Linked DNA regions of Homo sapiens: region 2 is linked to region 1. Evidence: fine-mapped expression QTL. Tissue or cell type: monocytes after LPS. Region 1 holds a variant in brackets; the other region holds the start of a gene. All regions are shown on one strand. Distances are between the middles of the regions.

Region 1 (4,352 bases):
CTCTGCATGAGAGGGATGGGCCACTGCAAGGCAGGCAGCTCCAAACGTGATGGAGCCTCAGGTTATGCTTCCTGGTGCTGGAGTGCTTCATGGGGCTGGAGTAACTCGGCCCTAATTCCCTCATCCATCTTTTTTCTTATTGCTAAAGCAGTTCCAGAAGGCAAATATGGAGATCTGGGACCCACAAGCCTAAAATGATAAAGAAAAGAAGAGAACCAGGGGTGGCGTCAAGATTAGAAGCTGGTTTGCTGCCAGAGCTTTGCTTCCTTTAATGCACTCGCCCACACTCTCCCTGTTTTTCAAAGACCAACTGCAGGCTTGACTCCTGCAGCCATGTCGGTGCCACTAGGCCTTGGTGCCGAATAAATAAAACTAGAGGGAAAAAATACAGTTGTCTGAGGACTGGGGATGGCTGGGAGCATCCAGCTTAGTGTCAAACTGAGGAAATGGTAGGATGGGAATCGATATGTAATCGAGAGAACAGATCTCCCGTGGACACAGACACCACCCTGATCTGAGCCTCATTTCAGTACTGCAGGCCTGGGTAGAGTCAGCTGACCCCAAAAGCACTGTGCTGGAGAATAGAGAATGACTGTCATTCTATGATGCCTTCTGAATATCGCTGCATAGACAGCATGCACTCTTTATAACAGCAGAAAGAGACATAAAAGAGACAAGGGTGGGGAGAGCAAATGTAAAAATATGAGAAATTATGCCCCTCGTCTTTAATTTTTATTATTATTATTTTTTTGAGACAGAGTCTTGCTCTGTTGCCCAGGCAGTAGTGCAGTGGCATGATTATGGCTCACTGCAGCCTCAAACTCCTGGGCTCCAAAGATCCTCCTGCTTCAGCTTTCTACATAGCTAGGACTACAAGCGTGTGCTACCACACCCAGTTAAATTTTTTTTTGTTTTTCCATTTTTTGTAGAGACGAGGTCTCACTACATTCCCCAGGCTGGTTTTGAACTTCTGGCCTCAAGCGATCCTCCTTGGCCTTTTAAAGCACTGGGATTACAGGCATGAGTGACCACACCAGGCCTTTTTTTTGAGACAAGGTGTGGCTCTGTTGCCCAGGCTGGAGTGCAGTGGTGCGATCTCGGCTCACTGCAACCTCCGCCTCCTGGGTTCAAACCATCCTCCCACCTCAGCCTCCCAAGTAGCTGGGATTATAGGCATACACCACCATGCCTGGCTAATTTTTGTATTTTTGATAGAGATAGGGTTTTCCCATGTTGCCCAGGCTGCTCTCCAACTCCTGGGCTCAAGTGATCCTCCTGCCTTGGCCTCCCCAAGTGCTGGGATTACAGGCATGAGCCACTGTATCCAGCCCTCCGGCCTTCATTTTTAAAAAGAATAAGTTTTATTTTTCTTTCTAATTACAAAAACAACATATACTCATGGTAGACAATCTAAGAAATACAGAGACCTAAAATAAATAATCAACTGTAATCCCACTAACCACTGTTGCTATTTGATGAATATTTGAATATTTACTGAATGCTGACTGTCTGAGGCACTCTAACAATCCTAAGGCTCAGGTAGTAAAATTATTCCCCTTTAATTAATGAAAGAACTGAGATTCAGCGAGGTTAAGATTTGCCTAAAAACACACAGCTGATACGTGGTAAAGCCTGGATTTGAACCTGGTTCTGTATCCCAATTTTCTCACAATATTTTATTTGTCTTGATCTACCAAGATTTGTCTTGGTATTTGTCTTGATACCAGAGATGATGGTACATCATCAAACAATCCCAATTTTCAAATGGGAAATACTTCAAAGCAAAAAGATACTGCATGAAGATGTTTCAAAAATGCGTTTTGTCTTTCAGGTCTTGTCACAGTTATTGCAATTTTGTAA[G/A]ATCATTCATTGCGAAAGTGGTGTTTTGATTCTTTGCCCTTTCCGGCAACAAAAACAGAAAGCGACTTCCCTTCTATCATTTGGCCTGAGGCTTCTTTCTGCTTCTGCCCAAGGCAGACTGTGGTTAGCACTCAGTGCTTAACCTCTTCCTCCTGCATGTCCCTCTGAAGTAATACATTTTTGTTTTGACACTTTGGATATACTGGACCCTAAAAATCAAGCCAATAAGGAGCAGCCCAGAAAGGAAGAGAGTGCCATAGTCTCACCTGTGTTTTAGGGAGGTTAGTTTTGTAGCCGTGCAAGGGCTGGCTTGATTAGGAGATCTTAGACTCAGAGAAATTGGTTATCACTTTTAAAAAATGAACAAATGACATGGGTAACAACCTTACCCCATTCATAAGCTTCACCATCTCTCACCACATCTCTGTGTCCAGCCCCATTCCTGAATTCCTCATCTGACCCTCATTTCATCCTGACATTAAGGAGATTATCTACACAGATTATTTGATGATTTTTTAAAAGCTGAAAATTTAATAATTTATTCTTTACAGTAATGAATTAAGTCTGAACACTGAAATATCACTGGCACTAAAACTACCTCAGTAAAACATCATGTACCCAATACCCAATCCTGACTACCCAGTTTTGTTCCCCAGCCAGTCTAGCCCTGACAGTTTTAGACACTTCCTGCACATTCTCCACCATTAACCAGCTCTAGCTCCTCCTGGTAACTCTACAGTGGCTCTCAAGATAGAATTGTCATTAAATGTGGAAACTTTGGTTATCTTTATTTTTATAATTATTTATTGATTGATTTATTTTTTGAGACAGAATCTCACTCTTGTCATCCAGTCTAGAGTGCAGTGGCACAATCTTGGCTCACTGCAACGTCTATCTCTGGGTTCAAGCAATTCTCCTGCCTCAGCCTCCCCAGTAGCTGGGTTTACAGGCATGTGCCACCATGCCTGGCTAATTTTGTATTTTTAGTAGAGATGGGGTTTCACCATGTTGGTCAGGCTGGTCTCAAACTTCTGACTTCAGGTGATCCACCCGCCTCGGCTTCCCAAATTGCTAGGGTTACAGGCCTGAGCCACTGCATCTAGCCAGAGATCAATTTTTAAAAATTCTGCATATGAGTGAGAACGTGTTGTGTTTGTCTTTCTATGTCTGGCTTACTTCACTTAACATGTTTTCCAGATTCATCCATGTTGTTGCAAATGGCAGGATTTCGTTATTTCTTACGGCTGAATAGTATTCCATTGTGGTATATATATACATATATATATATCACATTTTCTTTATCCATATTCATCCATTGTTGAACACTTAGATTGATTCCATATCTTGGCAATTGTCAATAATGCTGTAGTAAACATGGGAGTGCAGATATCTCTTCAATTTACTGATTTCATTTCCTTTGTATATATACCTAGTAGTGACATTGTTGGATCACATGGTAGTTCTATGCTTAATTTTTTGAGGAACTTTAATACTGTTTTCCATAATGGCTGTGCTAATTTAAGCAGTGGTAACTTCGGAACCAAGCTGTCTGAATTCAAATCCCACCTTTACCAGTTTGCATGTGACTTTGGGCAAGTTAATTACCCCATGCCTCAGTTTCCTTGTTTACAAAATGGAGAAATAGTATCTATTTTATAAGGTTGTTGTGAGATCAAATACTTGTAAAGCTATTGCTTGTAAAGCTCTTAGAATATGGCCTGGCATATTGTAAGCACAGTGTAAATGTTAGCTATAAAGACAAATGGAGTCATCTGTCCATCTTGTCATCTCAAGGGTCAGTGGTCAAGATATATTTCTTAAAAATTATTTTAAATTTTAATGGTTTTCCTATTTTATTTATCGGCATTGCAGAGTAATTTTGTTGCACATGCACAGTAGTTTGTTTACAAATTATACATCAAATAGATTTGTATGGGCTTGTCTAGAAATCTTAACCATTTATAACATTGTGTGTCATATACATATCTCTATCTATCTAAATTTATATTTGTATGCACACACACAAAACACTTTTTGCAGTAGATTTTTGGACACAGATTTTATGAACTATATCCAGCTTATTTTATAAATTTATTTTTCTTCTATGTATTTTTCATTTTCCAGAGGTTGGGCTCACAAAGCATTGTCAAGACTTGAGGTGGCCTTGAATAGCATGCTAGAATTTTGTATTTTATTCCCTGCGTTATAAGGATATGCCCAGAAAGGAAGAGAGGGCCATAGTGTAACCTGTGTTTTAGGGAGGTTAGTTTTGTAGCAGTGCAAAGGCTGGCTTGATAATGAGGTCTTGGAGTCAGAGAGATTAGTTAAAAGGCAGTTAGAATAACTCAGTCTGAGAACCTCAATTAATGTGCTGGACAAGAGGGAATACATGTAAGAATAATCTGGGGATAGAATCAAGAGGACTCAAGAGTGCAGTGGTGAAATGGTGGAGAGAATTCCAAAGGCTTTCAGTTTCGGTTGATGAGAGGCCG
Region 2 (4,000 bases), 70 kb after region 1:
ATTGGCCATGGTGAGTTGGCATCTGTGGAACTTCAGGTAGAGATATTTCCTGAATAGACCAAGGAAACTGACACAGAAAACTTAAGCATATAAGACAACATAGGTCAGTAATGTCTACCCTTAGAACAATTCCCCATCTTCTTTTAAATTTCTCCATATATTTCAGTTCACAACCACACATAAACCTCTTCAATGATTACTGATTATTTACATAGTTAGAAATTCTACTATGTATACTTGGAAAAAAATAAAATATTTCTAACAGCAGCTTGTTTGTTAATAGGGTAAACATGTCAACAATTATTGTCACAAAAGTGGTCTGAAAGAACCTCTTTGGTAAAAGTAATAGTGTAATACTTTCCTGTTATGTACTTAGGAATGACTGGCATTTTCCCTAAGGATAAAATATTCAGCTGTTGATAGCTAGACCATGTTAGTGTTGACCTCAGATTGGGGTTTACCAATGCAGAGGCTCAGGCCAATCAGTAACTTATACAGTGGAACCCATAGACCAGTAGCAATGATGGCTGATAACATGTCTTGAGAATTTGGTAATTCCACTGCCCAGTGGACGTGGGGCAGCAAACTGGGCACCAAACCACAGATGGATTGCAGTACACTGAAGGAATTCATTATAGTTTTGTGAAATTGGAGGCTGGCTTGACAAAGATGAAGCCTGCTGGGATTAAAAACTTGTGTGTTCTTGGCAAGAGCATGTTGCTGCAGAATTTCACCAGCCATAGTGGGGAAAAAAGAGGGGTGAGGGGGCGTGGGGAAAATGGGAGACCACAAAATTCCTGATATGATACATAAAATGTTAAATATCTATCAGCTTTGCATCCTTTGAGAGTCACCAGATTGAAGCACAGTATTTTGGATTTGGCTGGCAGATGGTGTACACAGACTTTCTGAGAATGTTAGCATTTCATTTGAAACTAGCAAGATTACATGTGACTATCATGGTAACTTAGCACTCACATATTTTTCAACTTATCCCTAACCCTGGGTTGAATGTAGAGGCTCTAATAACATATAAAAGGCTTTGTTAATGTATGGTCTGGGTCTCATTGAATAGTATTTCAGGATGTAATACTTCTTTTAAAATGTCCACAGGGCAGTGTCAACGTCTTTCCATGGAAATCTGGCTCACCCAATAAGAGAAAAGAGGCCAAAGGTAAGAAAGACTAAACCAGGGGAGATGGCAGGCAGTGATGTCTGGACTGTTTGAATGGGACTTCTCCATTTACCGCCCCTCTCACTTCCTTCTATGGTCTGGACCTTTAATCACCACAGCAGTCAGCCATGTAGGGTCAAGCTAATCGCTGTTGACATCATCCTACTACTTCCCTTTTCAAATTCCAGTGAAGCTATGTGTTTCCTGTCCTATTCCACACCCTAGAGAATGAATACCGGCCAGCTAGTATCTAAATTTAGAATGGCAGCAACGTGTCGGGTTTTCGGAGTAGAGATAAACAAAACCAGGTGACATTTCCAAGCCTCTCAAGGAAAGGGGGGAAAAAACCTTTCTGGGGTAAGTAAATAAGGAGAGCTTCAATAGTTCCATGGTAGAGAGAGGCCTGCTGGAAGGTTCAGAAAATAGGCCGTTTGGAACCTTCTCCTTTAAGCCAGGAGGGCGGCTTTGGGAGGCGTCTTGAAATACATTCTTGACTCTGCTGGGAAAGCTCGGGGAGCCAGAGGCCTAATACCCCCCACTTCAGGGGAAGCTGTGAAGGCAGCTGCACCTCCTTTGTCAAGCTGTTGGTTTCAACCACAGACACGAGGACACACTTGAGGTGGGGGGATAAGGGGAGAAGCCTGCCGCCCCGCCCCACCCCCGCCAGCACACCGCCCTCGCCATTCCTCTCCCGCCCCGCCCCGCCCGGCGTCTGTGACCCCGCGGGCCGAGCCTCAGGCGACCTGTTGGCAGGGAGAGTCACGTGATGCGCCGGCTGTGCACTCCCCTCGGGCGGGCCTCCTGTTGCGCCCGCCTGGCGAGTTCCATCACGTAACGCGCGGGCGCCGCCCAGCTCTTCCCTCGCTGAGCGAGGGAGGGCGGGCGTCGAAGAGGAAAGGGAAGGGGAAAGGGGCGGGAGAAGGGAGGAGGGGCGGTGTCCGAGTCACGTGACCCGGGGCAGCCCGGAAAGCTCCGAGGAGGAGCCTGGCGCCGCCATTTTCCTGCAGCTGCCTGTTCCTCTTACCCTGCCCGGCTCCAGCTGACCCGGGAAGGGGTGGGCTGAACTGAGGCGGGGGCAAGGGAGTGCCCGACATCTTGTCCGACTCCGCGGGTGACACGAGCCGGTTCTCTCTGGACTGGTGGCAGCGCGCGGCCCCGAACCGCGCCCCAGGCCGGCAGGCGGGGAAGGAGCCGGTGGGGGTAGGGGGTGCGGTGGGGGGTGGGGACCCTCCGGCTCTTGGGGGTCCCAGTCCCCGCCGGCTGCTGAGCGGGTGGGGTGGTGGAGGAGCTGCAGAGATGTCCGGCCAGAGCCTGACGGACCGAATCACTGCCGCCCAGCACAGTGTCACCGGCTCTGCCGTATCCAAGACAGTATGCAAGGCCACGACCCACGAGATCATGGGGCCCAAGAAAAAGCACCTGGACTGTGAGTGAAGCCGACCGCGGCCCCCGCTCCCCGGCGCCCGCGCGACCCGCGCGCGTCCTTCTCTCTCTCTCTTGTCTTTCACCCTTCTACTGCCTCTTCCCTCCCTGCGTCTTCTCTGGCACGGCCGGTCCTGTGCCCGTTGAGCTGTGTTCTTTTGCTTCCATCACACCTGCCTTCACGGCCTCCGCTCCCCGTCTCAAAATCTGACAAGCCACTCCCCTCCCTATTCCTAGGGGACCCTCGTCTCCCTGCCCGGTGCGCTACCACACCCCATCATACCCAACCAACTTGCTTCCCCACCTGGCTTCTCACCCCCTACCCGTCTCCACTGCAGCCTTCTGCTCTTCCTTCCCACCCGTCCGGTGCCGCCTCGTCGCCCTCGTCTGAGCGTCTCCAAGCCCCATTGTTTCTTCATCAGCCTCCTTCGGGTTTCAGTAAACGCCTGGTTCCTTGCATCCAGATCCTTGTTATCCCTCCGGGCTGCCTCCCTGGAAGGGATCCCCCACTTCCTTTGCTCCACTAGCTGCTTCGCCCATCCCTTCCTGGCTTTCTGTTCCACCTTCCCTCCTGCTTTTGGGTTACCTTTTCATCGCCTCTATAGTAGCTTCAGTGTAGTTTCTTCGACTCATTTTAAATACCATACCCAGTTACCCGACTTTTATTTCAGATTACCTTCTTTGTGGGAGTGAAAGTAAAAGGATTCAATTTGGTGTAGGGAAAGCTTTCTGGAAAGTTGGGATTTTTATTTGCCTCTGGTGGAATTTAATCGTTGTGTTGTCCATACTTTTGACTGGGGTGAGTTTGTGACTGTCAGCTCTGCCCCCCAGCTTTTCACATGGGGATATGGAAAAAGGCATTTTGCTGATACTCTTATCAGTTCCTGGAACTGTTAATTCTGGCGGCTTGAATTCAGAAGCTTGAGTGTTAAGCGTAGACTGTTGGAATTCCAAATGGATTAATAAATTTACTTACAAATAACATACATCCCTTAAAAAAATTGGCAAAATGATGTTTGATGATGCTTGAGTTTGGATGTTTTAATTATGCCAGTTACCTTTTGAGGAACTAGCTTTAGCTTCTCTTACACGACATAGTATTCGTCCATTCGCTAACGTAGATACAATTAGTAGAGCTAACTCCTCGTAACTTTTTTCTAACCTGGAAGTCACCTGTAATACCCTCCTTTTTCTTTGCGCTCTTTTACCCCAGGGTACAAAGCTCATTGGATCACTCAAGCCAATGGAGCTTAGACCTGAAACTTTTCAGGGAAAAATAGGGCAATAGTCACGATAAGTAAGTTCCCTTTTTAAATGACTGGACACATTAGTCTGACTGACTTTCATCATACATGAAAGTTACTTTGTTTTACTGTTTGAAGCAAGAGTGAGCATGCCCTGAAA

What was found. PIP is the estimated chance that this variant, and not a neighbour inherited with it, causes the effect.
Region 2: PICALM starts here. The variant in region 1 is fine-mapped to the expression of PICALM in monocytes after LPS (Quach 2016, PIP 0.95). The same link has a PIP of 0.9 or more in monocytes.

The regions. Positions count from the first base shown.
Region 1 is chr11:86,136,710-86,141,061 of GRCh38, reverse strand. No RefSeq gene overlaps it. Among named protein-coding and RNA genes, the nearest start is that of LINC02695, 55 kb to the left of the region's middle. The variant G/A (reference allele first, on the strand shown) is at 1,861.
Region 2 is chr11:86,067,251-86,071,250 of GRCh38, reverse strand. It overlaps PICALM (phosphatidylinositol binding clathrin assembly protein), which reads left to right and starts at 2,167. Exons shown (of 20, transcript NM_007166.4): 1 at 2,167-2,600. The coding sequence starts at 2,471. It overlaps LOC124902731 (a long non-coding RNA gene), which reads right to left and starts at 1,327. Exons shown (of 2, transcript XR_007062823.1): 1 at 1-1,327. RefSeq lists silencers at 1,653-1,922, 2,073-2,242, 2,383-2,432, 2,503-2,552 and enhancers at 1,178-2,377, 2,117-2,818, 2,819-3,521.